Linked DNA regions of Homo sapiens. The protein of the gene in region 2 interacts with the protein of the main gene of each other region in a biochemical or structural test. Each region holds a gene or a part of one and is shown on either strand. Other genes may lie near its edges.

The links. The genes of interacting proteins can lie anywhere in the genome.
Region 1: the proteins of RAPGEF5 (region 2) and MRAS form a complex in vitro, tested with the Homo sapiens proteins (one study listed by BioGRID).
Region 3: of the proteins of RAPGEF5 (region 2) and RAP1A, one has a biochemical effect on the other in vitro, tested with the Homo sapiens proteins (2 studies listed by BioGRID).

Annotation. Positions count from the first base shown.
Region 1 is NC_000003.12:138,344,218-138,351,578, forward strand, and holds the start of MRAS (ras-related protein M-Ras isoform 1 precursor), read left to right. Parts: upstream 1-4,361; 5' UTR 4,362-4,550; exon of another isoform or gene 4,551-4,815; intron 4,816-4,994; exon of another isoform or gene 4,995-5,162; intron 5,163-5,466; exon of another isoform or gene 5,467-7,361. UniProt on the Homo sapiens protein: Signal transducer in the Ras-MAPK signaling pathway that regulates cell proliferation and survival. Core component of the SHOC2-MRAS-PP1c (SMP) holophosphatase complex that regulates the MAPK pathway activation.
Region 2 is NC_000007.14:22,354,065-22,361,659, forward strand, and holds the start of RAPGEF5 (rap guanine nucleotide exchange factor 5), read right to left. Parts: upstream 3,091-7,595; 5' UTR 2,997-3,090; coding exon 2,766-2,996; intron 1-2,765. UniProt on the Homo sapiens protein: Guanine nucleotide exchange factor (GEF) for RAP1A, RAP2A and MRAS/M-Ras-GTP. Its association with MRAS inhibits Rap1 activation.
Region 3 is NC_000001.11:111,713,789-111,717,191, forward strand, and holds the end of RAP1A (ras-related protein Rap-1A precursor), read left to right. Parts: 3' UTR 1-2,903; downstream 2,904-3,403. UniProt on the Homo sapiens protein: Counteracts the mitogenic function of Ras, at least partly because it can interact with Ras GAPs and RAF in a competitive manner. Together with ITGB1BP1, regulates KRIT1 localization to microtubules and membranes.

The DNA.
Region 1 (7,361 bases), on a different chromosome or scaffold from region 2:
GCCTGATTCTTAGTCTACCAGCTGTGTAGGATTGGGCTCACAGTCTCCTTATATCTAAGACAGGGCTCAGATGACCTACAGCACAGGGTCAGACCCATCACTATGTCTGGTGTCAGGCACGCTGTGAGTGCTCAGAAACTCACGGCTTCTTTTACCCTTAGGGAATACACTGAAGTTGGGAGGTTTTTTGTTTGTTTGTTTGTTTGTTTGTTTTTGAGACAGAGTTTCACCCTTGTTGCCCAGGCTGGAGTGCAATGGTGCGATCTCGGCCCACTGCAACCTCCACCTTCTGGGTTCAAGTGATTCTCCTGCCTCAGCCTCCCAAGTAGATGGCATTACAGGCATGCGCCACCATGTTTGGCTAATTTTGTGTTTTTAGTAGAGGTGGGGTTTCACCATGTTGGTCAGGCTGGTCTCAAACTCCTGACCTGAGGTGATCCACCTGACTCGGCCTCCCAAAGTGCTGGGATTACAGATGTGAGCCACCGCGTCTGGCCTGAAGCTGGGAGTTCTAGAGGAAGGCTGGGCCACAATGACCTGGTTGACTTCCAGCCCCAAGGTCCCAAGCCCCCACGTTTGCTGCTGAACTAGGCACCAGTTTGGATTGGCTCTGAGGCATGGCACTCAGCAAGCCTCAGGGCAGAGAGGCAAGTGTAGGACATGTTGCAGTGGATGAAGTATGTTTGTTTTGTCCTGCTCTGGGTCAGTTCAGTGGCTCTGACTTTAGCCAGAAATTGGCTCCTGGCCCTGTGTCTGACCTTGGACCTCTGTGGATTAAATTTGGGCCTGAGCCTTGCCTGGGTTTTTGGCTAGGTGTCTGGCCTTCTGCCATGCCTCAAACACACCTGATCAGCCAGGCACATCTGCCAGAGACTTTGGAAAGACTTCTGCTCAATCATCCTTCAGCATATAAGGTTTTCTCCTTCCCTTCTCAGCCTAGCTAATTTTTGTTTTTTGAGATGGAGTTTCACTCTGTCCCCCAGGCTGGAGTGCAGTGGCAGGATCTCAGCTCACTGCAACTTTCGCCTCCCGGGTTCAAGCAATTCTCCTGCCTCAGCCTCTCTAGTAGCTGGGACTACAGGCACCCGCCACCACACCTGGCTAATTTTTGTTTTTTTTTTAGTAGAGACGGGGTTTCACCATATTGGCCAGGTTGGTCTTGAACTCCTGACCTTGTGATCTGCCTGCCTTGGCCTCTCAAAGTGCTGGGATTACAGGCATGAGCCACCACACCCGGCCCTAGCTAATTGTTATTTGTCCTTCCAGATGTGGCTCAGTCATCAGCTCTCACAGAAGTCCTTCCCTTGGCACTTGCCTCCTCGCCATATTGGATTAGGTGCCCTTCCTCTGGTCTTCCACAGTCCCTGTGCTTCTCTGTTCCACACCACTTGCTCCTCAGTTGGCACTCAGCTTGCTTGAAGGCAGGTCTCTGCCCCAGTGCCCGGTACTCAGTAGATGCTCTGGCAGTGTTTACTGGATGAATGAAGCTTTTCTGCTCAGTGGCTCTGTTCTCTAAGCCCCCATTTGCCAGCAACTGAGCCACAACTTGTATTTCAAGGTTCAAAGAGCAGAGGAGGCAGCTCAAATGGAACAGCCCATCCGCAATCGCAATCTGCAAGATTTACTCTCACCATTAGGCAATCTTAGGTAGGTCAAGCACAGTGTCTCACACTTGTAATCCCAGCACTTTGGGAGACCCAGATAGGTGGATTGCTTGAGTCCCAGGAGTTCGAGATCAGCCTCGGGAACATCTCTACAAAAAGTACAAGAAGTAGCCAGGCATGGTGGTGCACACCTATAGTCCCAGCTACTCAGGATGCTGAGGTAAGAAGATGTCTTGAGTCCGGGAGGTCGAGGCTGCAGTGAGCTATGATGCTATGATCATGCGACTGCATTATAGCCTGGGTGACAGAGCGAGACTCTGTCTCAAAAAAAAAAAAAAAAAAAAAAAAAAAAAAGGAGAATCCCAGGTACCTGGGTATGACTATTAGCTGTTTAAGTTCCATTTCTGAGAAGAGGTATTATTACAGATATGTGTATAAAAGCAGTATAAAGACATCTCTTTGACTCTTGCATAGATGTTGGCTCAGCTCAAGCTGAGGGCATGGTCAGGGTCTTGTGCCAGTCAGGGCCCAAGAGAGGACATCTCTTACATGGGGAGCCCACGAGGGGCTGACAGGCCACCAGGATGTACAGATCCCTGCCCGCCTTCCCAAGTTCTGTGGTAAATAGAGGGGGTTGAGGGAGTCAGGTTCCAGGGCAAACCTAGACAGTCGAGGTAAACTACTGTCCCTCAAGCCTTCTCCCCAACCAGGTCTTTTACTCCCTACTGCCAAGGAGAGATACTCTTGATGGCACCCAACCTGCTGTCCCCTTCCTGGGGGACACTTGGGGTCTACAGGGTCTTTGGAGCAGCAGGTGGGAGTGGAGGCACAGGGGGTGCACAGCAGCTCCCACCAAATGGCTGCATGGGTGGCTGGGATGCCAAAGGAAGCCTGCATGGGATTAAGAGCCTCAGCATGGCAGGCAGAGCCAGCAGCACTGTGAGGCTCCCTTAGGCCTGGGGCAAACCTGAGAAGGGAGTGGGTTCCCTGGACATGTAAAGCTGGTTCTAAGTCATTGAGGTCCACCCAGAAAAAGAATGTCCTCAGAAATGATGCTGACAATCAAAACCACAATGAAATGCCATTTCGCCCCCAATAGGATGACTAGAATAAAAAAAGACACACAATTACAAGTGTTTGCAAAGATGTGGAGATATTGGAACCCTCATATGTTGTTGGTGGGAATGTAAAATGGTGCAGCTGCTTTGGAAAACAGTTTGGCAGTTCCCCCAAAAGTTAAACATGGAGTTAACATATGATCCAGGAATTCCACTCTTAGGTATATACCCAAGAGAAAGAAAAGCATATGTTCATACAAAGACTTGTACATGAATATTCATAGCAGCTTTATTCACAGTAGCCCCAAAGCAGAAAACTAAATATCCATCAAGTGATGCAGGGATAAACAAAACGTATAGACATACAGTGAAATATTACTCAGTCATGAAAAGGAATGAAGTACTGCTACATGTTACAACATGAATAGATCATTAAACATTGGTTACTGAAAGAAGCTAGTCATAGTCACAAAAGGCCACATGTTGTATGATTCCGTTTATAGAAAATGTCCTGAATAGGGAAATCCATAGAGATTGAAAGTAGATTAGTGGTTCCCAGAGGCGGAGGAAAGGGGTGAATGAGGAGTGACTGCTAACGGGTAGTTCTTTTTGTGAGGGGCAGGGGAGGGGAGTGGGAAGTGGTGAAAATGTTCTGGAATTAGCTCATGGTGATGGTTGCAAAACTTTGTGAATATGCTAAACACCACTGAATCGTACACTTTTTTTTTTTTGAGACAGCGTCTCACTCTGTTGCCCAGGCTAGAGTGCAGTAGCGCAATCTCGGCTCACTACAACCTCTGCCTCCCGGGTTCACGTGATTCTCCTGCCTCAGCCTCCCGAGTAGATGAGATCACAGGCACGTGCCGCCATGCCGGGTTGACTTTTGTATTTTTAGTAGAGACGGGGTTTCACCATGTTGCCTAGGCTGGTCTTGAACTCCTGACCTCAGGCGATTCACCCGCCTCGGCCTCCCAAAGTGTTAGGATTACAGGCGTGAGCCACCGCGCCCGGCTTGAATTGTACACTTCAAAAGGTGGAATTTTATGGTGTTGAATTATATCTTTATTTTTTTAACGGGGGGAAAATGACGCCGCTGGAGAGGAGTTAGCGGAACTGAAACAATGAAATGGTGCGCGAGTGTCGCCTGTCCCCGTCGCATCCATCCCAACGAAGTTTGGGCCCTGGAACGGTGCACCCAGAAGGCCTGCGGGGAGAGACGCTGGGGCATGATCTGGAAGAAAGACGTCTCAGGATTCGAAGGGAATGCAGCTAAGGTGGCGGCGGAGGTTCGCCTAGGACTGGGGAGGCGTCCCTAGGCTCAGAAGTTGGCCCGGCCGGAGCGGAGATTTAAAGGTTGGAGCGCAGAGGCTCTTAAAGAGGCCGAGTCGAATTCCCACTCGGCGTCCACCTTAAAGCCAGCTCCCCGGCACCACGGATCTGACCCGGGTAAGTGCTGGGCCGCGGGAGAGGCTGCGGCGCCGACCCCAGCCCCTGGCGCTCTAGCGCGCCCTGCCGGGCCCAGGGGACTCGGCGCGGGTGGGCTGGACTTCGTAGGCGCGCGTCCTGGGGGCCGGGGTGCACGCGGGGGCGACAGGGTCGAGGCACCCGGCCCGGGCTCCCCACTGGCGCGCCCGCAGCGGCGCTCTATTTTTAGCAGGCGCTGTGGCAATATAAGGAATGCGCGGCGCGCTAGGCGCTCGGGGCGCACGCTGGCGGCGCGGTCGCTTTAAGGAGGCGCCGGGGCGGGGACGGACCGGAGTGGCCGGCTGGCGGGGAGCCGTCAGTCCGGCGGCCGCGGGGCCCGGCGGGCGCGACGCTGCCTCCTCACCGGCGCAGGCTAGGAGGGGGCGGCCTGAGTGCCGTAGCCGAGCCGGGGCTGGAGCGCGCGGTGAGTGGTCGGGCGGCCTTGGAGGGGAGGGGGCCCGGCCGCGCCGCCTCTCGCCCCGGCCGTCGCTTTGTTCCGGGGCGGGAGGTGTGGCCGCCCTCCGGGCTCGGCCGCGCTCTCCGCTTGCGGGGTGCGCCCTGGGACCGGCTGTGCGTGGCGTTTTGCCCCCATCGCGGGCTCCCGCGTAACGGTGTGCGTTCGTGAAATCGGCCACGACCAAGACCCCAGTGGGGAGGGCCTGCGCGCCGCTCAGAGAGACCCTTTCATGGTAATTACAGTTCCTTGGCTGCCTGGGCGAGAACCCGGTGGATAGATGGGCGGCAGGACGGGGCGGCGGGGGATGGGTGGGTGGGTGGGGGACTCTTTACCCCCCCGCCTTAAGATGGCGTTAACGAGGGGAGGGATCCGCCAGGGAGTTGACAAATTCATCTGAATAATAAAACGCAGCCTGCTTCATAAACAACCCTTCACTGCCCCCGGAGGTTTGGGGAGCTGGAGCTGTGGTCACAACTAGGGCCTGGGCTCATGCATTGAACTGATCTGGCTGAGGCATCAGACACGGTGCCAGTCCTGCCCTGCGGGGAAGACAAGAGCACAAAGTGACAAGCCAGTGTGGTAAGTGCTGAGATTCGGTAAGCCCAGGGGTTGTGGGAGCCCCTAGGGGTCCCTACTGCAGAGTGGGAGGTGAGAGAAGGCCGCCTAGAGGAGTTAATGTCTGGCTGGCCGCAGCGTATACACTGGACACCCAGTTAGACTCTGGCTAGAGCTGAGGTCTGTTCTGGCCTGGGGCAAAGTGGAGTCTGGAGAGGTGGACAGAGTCCATCAAGGCCACTGGGGCCTTGATCATAGAGCTCTGCCATTGCCCCTACTCCCCAATGGCCCCTGATGGTGTGGAACCTCCCTGGCCTTGCTCCTCTAGGACTCACTCTGTCCTGGACCTGACCAGAGAGGGTGGCTGACAAGGCTCGGAATCGTGGCCTCCAGAGGTTTGTCTGGCAGCAGAAGTAAGATGGAGATATGACTTTAAGAGCTCTGAAACTCCACTGTAATAACAGCAACCAACAGGGCTTCCAAAGACCAGGCACTTGAAGTGGATTTGCTCATCATTTGACAAGACACCTCTTGACAAGACACCTCCAGAAGGATTTTGTTTATTGTAAAGGATGGAGGAACTGGGGTGAAAAAGAGCCAACAGCTTGCCCAAGATCATATCTGAAGTCCATGCTTTTGGCCACGTGGCTGTCCTGGGCTTCGGAAGGCTCTGGTGCAGCCTGTGTTAGAGTTTTGTAATATATTGTTTTATAATTATTCACTATAGACATTCACTGGTGGGTTGAAGTGTGAGGCAGTGAGCTGTGGGTATTAATAACTGACTCGTGTCAGAAGCTTAGCAGTGAACAAAGCACTTTCTCGGATACGGTTCTTAGAGCTTCTCCTGCTTCTTTTCCCGGGGAAGAAACTTGAGCTGCTAACATTTTGTAAACCTCCTAATTTCCTGTAAATCACATGTCCCTGCTGAGTGGGGCTGAAAATGTTTCGGGCAATGGTTTTCACCCTTAGGTCTGTTCACACTGCCCAGCAGCCAGTTAGCTTCTCTCTGTAGTTTATGGTGTAGTTTGTCCTTTTTCTGCCGGGGTGGGAGGCATGGGGCTTTCATGCTCTGGGGTTTTTGAGGTCTGCCAGCCTCTGGGGAGGGAGGTGTTGGGCAAGCCTCGTGCTCTGGTGGAAACTGACCCCCTAGATGTGACCTCGGCATTTCCTAAAGCTGGGGGCGGGACTGGGGTAGGCGGTAGTCAAGGCCCTTTGGTGAAGCAAGCGATTGTCTCCAGCGTTGTCAGCTTCGCTCCTCCATAAGACAGTTGCTAATTTCCACCTCTGTTTTCACCTACATAAGACACTTTATGACAGGTTTAACTTTTATGTTATTATTAGCTCTAGCCACTGGTATTTCATACTCAGTTCGTCTGAGCTACTTATAAAGTGACAAGTCCAGCCAGGGCAACATGGTGAAACTCCGTCTCTACAAAAATTAGCTGGGCCTGGTGGCATGCACCTGTAGTCTTAGCTACTTGGGAGGCTGAGGTGGGAGGATTGCTTAAGCCCAGAAGGCAGAGGTTGGAGTGAGCCATGATCACGCCACTGCACTCCAGCTTGGGTGACAGAGCAAGACCCTGTCTCAAAAAAAAAAAAAAAAAAAAAAGTGACAAGTCAGTTACCCTTGGGGTTGGTTTGGTTCCTAAGCTCTAGTGATCACCTGGAACCAGGAATGACTATTGGCCTCTGATAAATTAGGCTCCTGGGATGACTGGTCCTAACCTCAGTCAGAATCACATGTTGACCAGCCTCCTGGATCTAGTGAGTTCTCAGGGAAATGTGGCTTCCATAATATATTTCACATCAGATTTAACCATTGTAATCTGTTCTGCCAATGAAATGCCCCCAAACAGAGTGTGTCTCCCTGAAAGCAATTGAAAAACATACCTGCTCATGAGCATTGTGTAGTTTGTACAAGCATACTCATGTGAACTGAATGGGAATGCATTCTTGTGCAATGCTGGAATGTTCTTAAGTGTCCAGAGGATGTGCATTGAGTTCCAGAGGCTCTGTACCTGCCAGGCCCTGGGCAGGCATAGAAGGTACAGTCACCTTTATCTGGAGACAGGTAAAAAAGGAGCTGGAGGAGTTCCCTGAGACCTGGGACACCTGGCAGGTACCCATTGTCTAGGGACTCAGCAGAGAATTCAAGCTTTAAGAGGAATTTTCTTGCTGGACTCTGAGTCCCTGTCAGCCCTCCTAAGTCTTAGATCATGCCTC
Region 2 (7,595 bases):
GTCTCAGAAAAAAAACAAAACAAAACAACAACAACAAAAAAAGCCTATAATGCACCTGGGTTGAGCAACACAACCCACAAAGAACTTTGTTAATGTCAGTTGATGTCAGATTGTCCAGGTTTGTGGGAGCCCAGGGCAGCATGGATAAGGACCACACATATTCCTAAATCAGATCTTGGTCAATATAGGAGATGAAAACTCAACTAACTCATGTAATGCACAAAGCTGTGTCTTTACTAGTGGTAATGGATTTCTGTTAACTTATCCCTGAAGTCACGCAGCTCCAGTCTGGAGGTATGGCCCATGAGACACAAAGCTGAAGGTCTACAAAAAGATCCAAGCCATGATTTGTTTGCATTAGCATCACTGCCCAATCCAAGGTGGTTAACCAGACAATCCCAGATGCTAACAAGTCACCAACCAACCAGTCTGATACATATTCTACTTGTATCTCTCTTTCTTTCAAACCCCCTGTGTTTTGGACTGTTAAGTGTATGCCCCCTACAAAATTCTTATGTTGAAGCCCTAACCCCAAACATGACATTATTTGGAGATGAGGCCTTTGATAATTATTTAGGGTTAGACTAGGTCATGATGGTGGGGCCCTCATGATGGGATTAGTGGCCTTATGAGAAGAGGGAGCCCTCTCTTCCTCTGCGTTTACCAAGGGAAGGCCATGAGAGGATATACGAGAAAGTGGTCATCTGCAGGCCAGGAAGAGAGCCCTCACCAGAAACCTAATCAGCCTACACATTGATCTCAGGCTTCCCAGCATCCTGAGCTGTGAGAAAATAAATTCCTGTTGTTTAAACCACCCAGTCTACGGTATTTTGTTATGACAGCCTGAGCTGCCTAAGACAAGTTCATATTTCACTTGTTTTTCTCCTTCTTTCAACCCCCTTCCTACTCCTTTGATGGGGAAGATTCCAAAATCACAAAGGTAGTTCCAAGGCAGAAGAAAGGGGAAATAAACAGTCAAATAAATAGTCAAAAAGTATGGGTTTCCAACACTGGAAAAACTGACAATCAAACTTCCTTCAATAAAAACTGGCTATGCAGTTACGAAATGTGTTTGGAAAGTCCCAAAAAGAAATAATACAGTATTAGAATCAAAGAGGGTTAATAAAGCATACATTATCTGAGGTAACCACATTCAGAGTAATTAAAAAATAAAACTAAATAGGTATATTGACAAGGTATACGACACCCTCCCAGGCAGCAAGAAACATGAGTATGAACGCAAATAAATACTATAGATCTATTTATACAGAAACCCTCAGCAATTCTTGTCGCAGACTGCCTGGCAGCCCTCATGTCTTCAGTATTCTGTGCCATGAAAAAGTAACCGTCAAGGATAATAGAAACATAATTTGACCTACTTTTCCCTGGATTCCTGCAAAGTCTATAACTCCAGTTCTTGTTTATTCCGACACCACATCTTGGGGACACATTTCCTCACTTACTTTGCAGGCAATCCTAAATGCCACACATGTTAAGGTCACTTGTGGGCAATTCCTAAACTCTCTGGGTCACCGACTTTAAGAATGTCCCATCACACACAGAGAATCCTCAGAACATCTTCTGAGATGGACCTGGGATGGACCATTTTCCACCTGAGATGGAAAATGCCTAGGAAAAGAGAGATGCAGCCTCGAGAAGCTGAAGACCGACATCAGTTCAGACCCTTCCCTACCCAAAGGAGGGCGCATGAAAACAAGTGGTTATCCCTCACTCTCAAGTTTACACAAACCCATCTCTGAAAGAGCTAGAAGTCTCCCAGCAAGGTCTTGTTTTAAGTCAGACAAGACTGCATTTTAAAAATTACAGCCAAACGGGAAAGAAAAACCACATTGATGCAGCTTCTCATTAAAGACCACTTAATAATAAATTTTTAAAAGATGAGTAGAACCCACCAAAGGTGCCGCCAAACCCTGGTGAGCAGGGAAATCTGAGTAAGTCAGCTCTGTGTCCTGAGGCCCTGGCGGGGCCTCCTAGGTGGCTTCTTAAAGATCCCAGGAGACAATCAGCAGACCTTCCTGCTTCTCTTAAAAATACAAAACATGCCTGACCTGCTCAGGTCATTAGATGCACTTAGAACTCAATGAGGGACACTCCTTCACCAGGAAATCGTATCTGAACACACCATCAGGAAGTCAATATTGAAGGTTCTTGGGGGCGTGCACCCTCCTGCTCAAGAGGGTGTCCAGGAGTATTAAGTGCTGGAGACACCGGAACCCAGGAACTGGAAGCTCACCCAAGAGCTTCCGACTCCTGGGTCTGCCCCTCGGCGGTGGAGACCACCAAAACCAGTCTCGATGCCCAGAGCTTGCAACAGCACCTCCAAAACAAGCACACACGTCGCATGCGTCCTGCAAACAGGGATGCCGCTCGTGGGGCCTGAAGCTTGCGGTTGGGACAGGGCTGGCTGGCTGTTGGACGCTGGACACCTGCAGCTTCCCCTCCGAGAAGAGGCAAACAGCTCGTCTTCAGCCGATGCCCGGTCCCGCAGCCTGAATCTGGGGGCCCTGGGGTTAAGTCAGGTGCAGCCTGGTGGGGGGGAGGTGTGGGGGCGGGGGAAGCCGTCGCTCAGGGGGTGGCACCTCAAAACCCGCCGTCCCGGGCCCCTCTTCAGCCGAGTCCGGCAGAAGGGCGTCCCTTCCGCCACCTCCCCAACTTCCAGACGCCCCCCTCAGCGGCCCGGGGGGTGGGCGCGGGCTCCACGTGCGCGCCGCCCGTGCCCACTCGGACAGGGCCGGGCCACTCACCCGGCCCCCAGCGGCGCTCCGCTTCCTCCGCAGCGTGAGCCCGCTCCGCAGCAGCGCGGGCAGGTCCCTCAGCCGCGGCCGCAGCGACGCCGGCGGCTGCTCGCGCTCGGGCTCCCGGGCGCTGGGGCTGCGGCGCAGGGGGCCGTCTGCCGCCACCACCGCCGCCGCGGCGGCCAGGGCCGGGCTCTCGCACGGCGGCTGCATCTTGACGGAGCCCACGGCCATCCTCATGCCCTGACGGCGCTGCGGCGCCGGGGGCTCCTCTCCACCGCGCTCGCCTCCGCGCGCCGTCCGCGCCTTCGCCAGGAAGCGAGAGGGCGCGACTGCGGCTCGGGCGCGGGGCGCGCTGCCAGCCGCTGCCCATTGGCGCGCGCCGCGGCCCCCGCGAGGCTCAGCCCCGCGCGCCTCCCCTCCCCTCCTCTCTCCTCCCCTCCCCGCCCAGGTGCGCGGGCCCCGCCCCGCCCCGCCCTTTCGCCTGCGAAAGCTGCCTGGGACCTGTCCCCCTCGGATCTCCCACTCGGGACCCGGGAGGAAGAGGGCACCTTGGGCACCGGCTCATCCACAGGTGCAGAATTCCCAGAATCTCCGGCAAACCCGCTCTTCTGTCCTGTCCCTGTCCCCCTACCCCTTAGGCTGAAAAGTCCTGCTTCACTTCTTCGAATAGCCAGGGGTTGACTTGGACTTCAACCAAGTGTGCTGGAGAGTCGTCCGCCCTCCCGCGCGTTTTGCACAGCCTGGCCCCTCATCGTAATCTTTACTCCTGGGAACTGTTTTGGCCAAGGAACTTCAAAATAGACACGCTACAAGGCAAACACCATGAGGCAAAATTGCTTTGCGCCGACCCTTCTTGGCACACGCATCCTTAAAGGACGAAGGGAGAAAACTTTTGTTGGTTATGATAGGTGTTGAGCAGAGTAGCTGCAAGTCTGGTGACCTGAAGGTGAATCTCTGTTAGCATGTCAGAACCTGACCTTCCCTGAAAGCCCGCTGCTGTGATGAATGTGCTTGGTGAACTGTAAAGGCCTGCCGTGGTGTGAATCATTGTTTACACCCTTCCAGGAGGCAGGAATTCTGGATCATTGAGAGTGAAACTATTCCAGCAGTGCCTTAAACGCCAGGGAGTGTGAATGTTCACATCTCAGCTCAATCTGTCTTCAACAAGGGCCAGCCAGGGTGTTGACTTCTCATCAGTGGGGCGCTGGGATCCCCATCTTTGTCTAAGACTTACAAAAGTTGAATAAGCTTATTCACATTTTTAAAAAATGACAAGAATCGTAGGAGGTCAGGGTCCAGAGTTGGTTTACCATTGTGCCCTCAGCCACTCACATGGTAGGTGCTTGGCAAATATGTATAAAAACATGCCATGTAACAAAAAAGGAGGAACGAACTGTGACCTCTGCCCTTAAGGAAGGTAAGACTTAACCTAGGAGTAGACAAACATCCAGAAAAACAAAGATATTGCACTTGTACTCTTGCTAATTGCCAAGTAAGTGTAGGTAAGACCACTTCAGGCCACAGGAGAGAGAAATGCTTCTGGCCTGGGATGGGCAAAGCTAAATCCACGAAAGGAAGGAAGTTTAAACTGCACCTTAAGGGTGAGTGGGGAAGATTCAACCAGGCAGAAGGAGGGTAGGTGTCCTTCAAGTAAGGAAGAAAGACATGAGGCCGGGCGCGGTGGCTCACGCCTGTAATCCCAGCACGTTGGGAGGCTGAGGCGGGCGGATCACGAGGTCAGGAAATCGAGACCATCCTGGCTAACAAGGTGAAACCCCGTCTCTACTAAAAATACAAAAATTAGCCGGTCGTGGTGGTGGGCGCCTGTAGTTCCAGCTACTCGGGAGGCTGAGGCAGGAGAATGGCGTGAACCCGGCAGGCGGAGCTTGCAGTGAGCCAAGATTGCGCCACTGCGCGACAGAGTGAGACTCCGTCTCAAAAAAGAAAAAAAAAAAGAGAGAAAGACATGAGAAAAACACAAAGGTGGTATCACACAGAACTCACTGGGCACTGAAAATATGTCATGCTAGTGAAGGGAAAGATGACATAATGAAGAAGTAAGAGAAGATACCAGAATGGATGCTAGTAACACACTGCAGAAGGCCTTAAACCCTGTCACCTTAAGCTGTGTGTGTTAACTGGAAAGGACTTTATAATAGGACTCCATAGTCCATTACAGTTTCCAAATACCTATCACATGCATTTATCCAAGGCTGAAATTGCATTTGTATGTTACCATGTCAGACTCTATCCGTTTTTACAGTGTTAAGATATTGCAGCTCCAGTTGGTAATTGGTCGTTGTCTTGAGCCCCAGAGTGCCACTCACCCCCATACCTCCAACTTCCCCATGACATACAACTAAAGGGTGAACACCTGGCCCACTAGAAGCCCTCCAGGACACTCAGATTAGTGGGTGCTTGCGCCCCATCACCCCAATGACAACATTGAATCATACCATGAACTTACTCTACTCCAAAGTAGAACACGTGTTCCGTCTCCTGGTCCAGGTTCCTGGTCTTCAAACCCATTCACACAGTTGCTCAATGCAAGGCCAGCATTCCTTAGATTCTATGGGATAGACCAAGCGTCTAAAGTTCAAGAAGGGCCTTTGGAAAATTGGTTTAGGTTAAGGTGATAAATGACAAATGCCATTTAGCTTCAGGATAAAAATAGGCAAACAACAGGGAATAGTAGGATGTGTACACAGAAGAGCCACGTCACTGTTTAACTCAAATCAAGCAACCTTTATACTCGCTGTGCCCTGTCTGGAATGAGAGTCCTCTGCAATGCTGTCCAACAGAACTTTCTACAATGATGCACATTTTCTGTTATCTGTTTTGCAGCTACTAGCCACATGTGACTGCTGAGCACTTGAAACATGGCTAGGGTGACTGAGGAACTGAATTTTTAACTTTGTTTAATTTTAATTCATATAAATTTAGATAGCAGCATATGGCTAGTGGCTACCATGTTGGATAGTGCAGTTCTAGAAATCCACATTTCTCTCAGTCAGTGTCTTCAGTTTTTAAATTCAAATGTCACCATTTCAGTGAGGCCTTCCATGACCATGTGATTTTAAATTGCAGTCTTTCCTATCCATTCCTTTCTTCATCCCCTTCCGAATGCCCCACAGAGCTTACCACCATCCATATTCTATATATTTTATTTATTTTGCCTATTGTCTGCCTCCCCACAACTAAAATGTATATGACATAAGGACAGGGCTTCTTTTCTCTTTTGTTCAGTATCTAGAACACATGAGTTGAATAATTCAATTATTTCATATATAAGAACTAAGTTTTTCAAACAGTTTAATCTGGATTTCTATACAAAATCTGATTTTGCAGTATGAAAGCTTATAAAAATGTAAATCATATAAAAATGGATTAGAATGAATAAGATCTACTGTTGGTAGCACAATAGGGTGACTATAGTTAAAAATAATTTACCGTATATTTTTAAATAACTAAAGGAGTGGAATTGGAATGTTCCTAACACAAAGAAATGATAAATGCTTCAGGTGATGGATAGCCCAATTACCCTGATTTGCTCATTACATATTCTATGCCTGTATCAAAACATCACATGTACCCCATAAATATGTACAGCTATGATTTACCCATAATAATAATAAATTTTTTTTGAGATGGAGTCTCGCTCTGTCACCAGGCTAAAGTGCAGTGGCACGATCTTGGCTTACTGCAACCCTCTGCCTCCTGGGTTCAAGCGATTCTCGTGCCTCAGCCTCCCGAGTAGCTGGGATTACAGGCACGCACCACCACACCCAGCTAATTTTTGTATTTTTAGTAGAGATGGGGTTTCACCATATTGGCCAGGATGGTCTCGATCTCCTGACCTCATGATCCGCCCGCTTTGGCCTCCCAAAGTGCTGGGATTACAGGCGTGAGCCACTGCGCCTGACCAAAAAAATTTCTTTTAATGTAAATCATATTTGTGCCAACCACACAAGTCAACGAGACCACTTGCCAGCCACTTGCAATTTTTCCTACAGGATGGGGTACCAGAGCTGAATTTTACTTAAGAGAATGAGATCATCAAAGTCAAAGTGTGTGTAAAGACCCATGGTAAGAAAACACAAATTTTAAGGCTATTGGCAGGATAGCGAAATTGAAGACCAGGAAGATAGCTCTGACAATGAGCTAGCTACAAAGTGATGAGGGCCTGAATTCATTGCGGCAATGGAAACAGAAATGAGGGGTTAGATGTTAGACAGTACAAAAGAAGGCTCCTTGGGCATAGGAGCAGTAGAAAAATACTTCAGATGGTGTTGTGGAGTGTATTGTCCAAAGATGGACAGTTCAGCATCTCCTATCTTCCAAGCTCTTCTGCAGTGTGATATTGCCACTCCCCCGAAAAGAGATGGAGTTTCTTTCTCCATCTCTTTGAATTTGAGCAGACTTTGTGATACAGGAGTTAAGAAGAAATCACTTAGGCAAATAGTAAGGGTATGGGAGTCCTTGGAAAGACTTTCCTTTATAATGAAAAGCAGTACCAAATCATTTTCTAACAAAGAGCAGCCTGTAAAGTGGAGCTGCAGATATAGACAAGCAAGCTGGGAGCTTGCACAGGTCAATGTCAGCAGGAACTAGGGTCTAAACATATTCAAGATGGCGGCTCCAACTTCCCTTTTCTCCCAGCCATGTGTACAGTGAGGACCAGAAAAGATGGTGCAGGCCAAAGGGAGAATTCATTTGCATAATAAGATTAGCATGGGGCGACCAGTCTTCCCCACTTGCTATGTAAACGTCACACCTGATCGAACCAGTCTGTGAGCCCTAGGTAAATCAGACACTGCCTCCTCAAACCGAACTATA
Region 3 (3,403 bases), on a different chromosome or scaffold from region 2:
GGGTGATACTACTTATGTAGTCTCTATAAAGAGAGGTAGAACAAAAAGCTTGTTAGCCAATTAAGTTCTGGAAAAGGAAAGAAACAAGCTTAGAAAACCCTGTGCCTTGTCCTCAAATATTAAGGAGGAGACAGACCAGTCCTAGAAAGTCTAAGTCATTGCTCAGGGATCTCTAGATACTGTCTCTTTGCAACTAGGTATGAAGAAGTGTTCATGCCTTGCTGAGATTTTCCAGGCATGTGGTCAGCCTGTCACTTACTAAACTGAAATTTTAAAATCAGGTTTCAAATGTTAAGCTTTGACCAACCTGAGAAAATGTTAAAGTATTGTTTTTAAAAAAATGGAAATTTTTTTTGTTTGTGTTTTTGTTTTAGTTTCGAATAAACTTAGTTACCTTACACTTCCCTTCTACTTATCCAATTATGCATATGTCTGGGATTGAGGGGCCAAAACTATAGCGAACTTGAATGAAGTATTAGGGCCAGTTGTCAGGTCAGGGTGGCATCTTTTATTTTAAGGTCCTCTAAAGTCATTCTGCTTTAAAACACCCCTCAAACATACCTTTAAACTTAAGATCATAGACAGACATCTCATCAACCAGTAAAACTTTCTAAATACTACCTTGTCACATCTATTGTGTAGTTATTTAACAGATTAAATAGAAGTCATTTAATAAGACTCCAAGTCTCAGTCTGCTTGACTAGTAGCATAAACTCAGTCTATTCTATTTTAGAATGTGGTGGAGAAAGATGATAGTTATTAGATTCCTTTGTCACATCTTATACAGTCCACTTGGGTTAAAGGTGGAACTGTCAAGAAAAACGCCTTTCTGGCACACAGTGATATGCAGAGCAGGACCAGCTGAAGTCAGATGTGCAAGGAAATCTGTGGTTGCTGAGCAGGATGAAAAGTATCCTGTTAGAAAGTGAGATAGGTGTGTTTTTATATTGTCCTAATGTGAACTCCTTAGTCTTGGTTCCAAAGGGAAGGGTACCTGAAAATAAATGTATTTTTATAGCTGAAAAATCAAGAGTTTCTAGGATATTGTGTGAATGTCAAATGATAAATATCTAGAAACTGATTTCATATTAGTATGTGTGGCTATTTAAAGTATAATGACTTTGGTTTGGTTATATGAGTGACACAGAATTTAAGGAGGCTTCATGCCATAGTTCATAGTTTGCTCTAATGGCTTGGTGGTATCCCTGAACAGTCTACTTTTAGAAATTAACAGTAAATACACAATCCAGCTGTAATCTTACCCTCCACCAGGGGGAGCTTCAACATCGGTTAATACTTTTTTTTTTTTTGAGATGGAGTCTCGCCCTGTCGCCCAGGCTAGAGTGCAATGGCTCAGTCTCCGCTCACTGCAACCTCTGCCTCCCGGGTTCAAACAGTTGTGCCTCAGTCTTCCAAGTAGCTGGGATTACAGGCACCCGCCACCACGCCCAGCTAATTTTTGTATTTTTAGTAGAGACGGGGTTTCATCATGTTGGCGAGGCTGGTCTTGAACTCCTGACTTCGTGATCCGCCCCCCCCTCAGCCTCCCAAAGTGCTGGGATTACAGGCGTGAGCCACCGCGCCTGGCCCGGTTAATACTTTCATAAGCATTGAAGTAACTATTTAAGTCCTAGTACATAAACACTGTGTGGTTCACAAAAAGGCATAGAGACATTCTCTCAAGAGTTTACAATCTAATTGGGCAGGGAAGATACTACAGTTCATCAAAGATATGAATAACACCCTAGTTTTCTGAACTGCAGCTGCATGGGTAATTATCTTAAGAACTTTTGGCAAAATATGGATGTTGGTGTGTTACTCTCTTCTCCCTACAACTCTGAACTAATCTGTGTTTGGCACCTTGATTTGCCATCATAAATGGCCACCATTTACTCCTCACTGAAATATTCTTCTTCTTTGAGGTTATAATGTACTTGGAAAAGTTAATACTTATAGAAAATAATGATCTTTATTACCAACTTTATTAAAACAGGCTTGGAACATTTTTCTCCATAGAAGAATAGTAATAAGACATTCTACATTTCCTGGACATGGCCAGTTTAAAATATTTTGCCCCATTACCCTTGTAGATACACATGTATTTGTCAGTTTATGTGCCTCAGTTTTGTCTTAGGCACTGAGGGACAGAAAGAGAAATAAGGAATACCTTGGTATTTTCCTTTGCAAGCAATCACAGCAGAATGCTAGAAAACATAAAATATACTCTTATAAATTGTATGTGTGTTGAAACCAAAGTGTGAAGAAATTGTCAGGTATTTGGAGGAGGAAAATAATTTGTAAAATAACCTTTTTAAGAATTTGGATTTTGTACTTATTTAAGGTGCTAAATATGTGTTAAAATATCCCCTCTTGAATCAGCTCCAGGCTTAAAAGGGCAGAGTGGTTTGGATTCTTGTCCAGGGTCTGGAAAGAGCTCATCTTGCCGAGAGGGAAATAAATGTGAGCTTTGAGGCGGTCTAACTACCCAGCTTTTAGTATTTATGTTCCCCAAAATGTAAAAACTGTAAGTTATTCTTGAAAATGTAGTCCAGACATTTCTTTGATCCTGGATTTTACTGCAGTTTCATCATGGGTTTGTTGAATGTGCAGTCCATTTATTGCCCTGTCTTGCTTAAATATTCTTGTTGAGAACAGCTGGAGGCTTTGACTGGGTTCCTAGTTCTGTTTTCTGGGAAGGCAACGTGGATTCTGTTTTGTAGACATTAATGAGCTTTAAATGGGAATTGGGGATGATGTATGTTCGTTGGGCATGCTGAGAAGCGGCCTCCTGTGGTTCTGGGCCCAAGGTGTGACATACATTTCCCACTAATTGCTTCTCTCAAGAAGCAAGAGATTGGCTGTTCCTCTTGAGGAAAAACCTTAATAAACCTTCCCATTTTAAACAGTGGTGTGACTCTTATTTTGAGCTGTTGTTTTCAATGAATTTTTTTAAAGCTTACCATGTTCAAATTTTTGTGCTGAATGTTGTAGGACATGCAAATCAGAACAGGACATGATCCTTAGGGGCCTACCAACAAATATTCATTGCACTTCTACTGTATGGCAAGTGCTGATCTGCATGCCGCGGAAACAACAGTGAACAGTACAGACTCAGATCCCTTTCCTCGTGGAGTTTTTATCTTTAGAAAATGGTAAAAGATAACTTGTGTAATGATGAGTGCTTTGAAGAAGAATTAAGCCGTGTAAAGGGGCAAGAGTACTGGGCAGAGGTGGTGGTAGTGGGTTAATATCTCATTGAAGTTGATACTCGAGTAAGTGTTCAAAGTGAGCAGCCCATGCAACTGCCTGGGGGAAAGGAGGATTTTCCATTCCTTGGGGAAAGGGTCTGTGCCAATGCCATGAGGTGGACATGTGCCTGGTGTGTTGAAGACTGGCAAGGAGG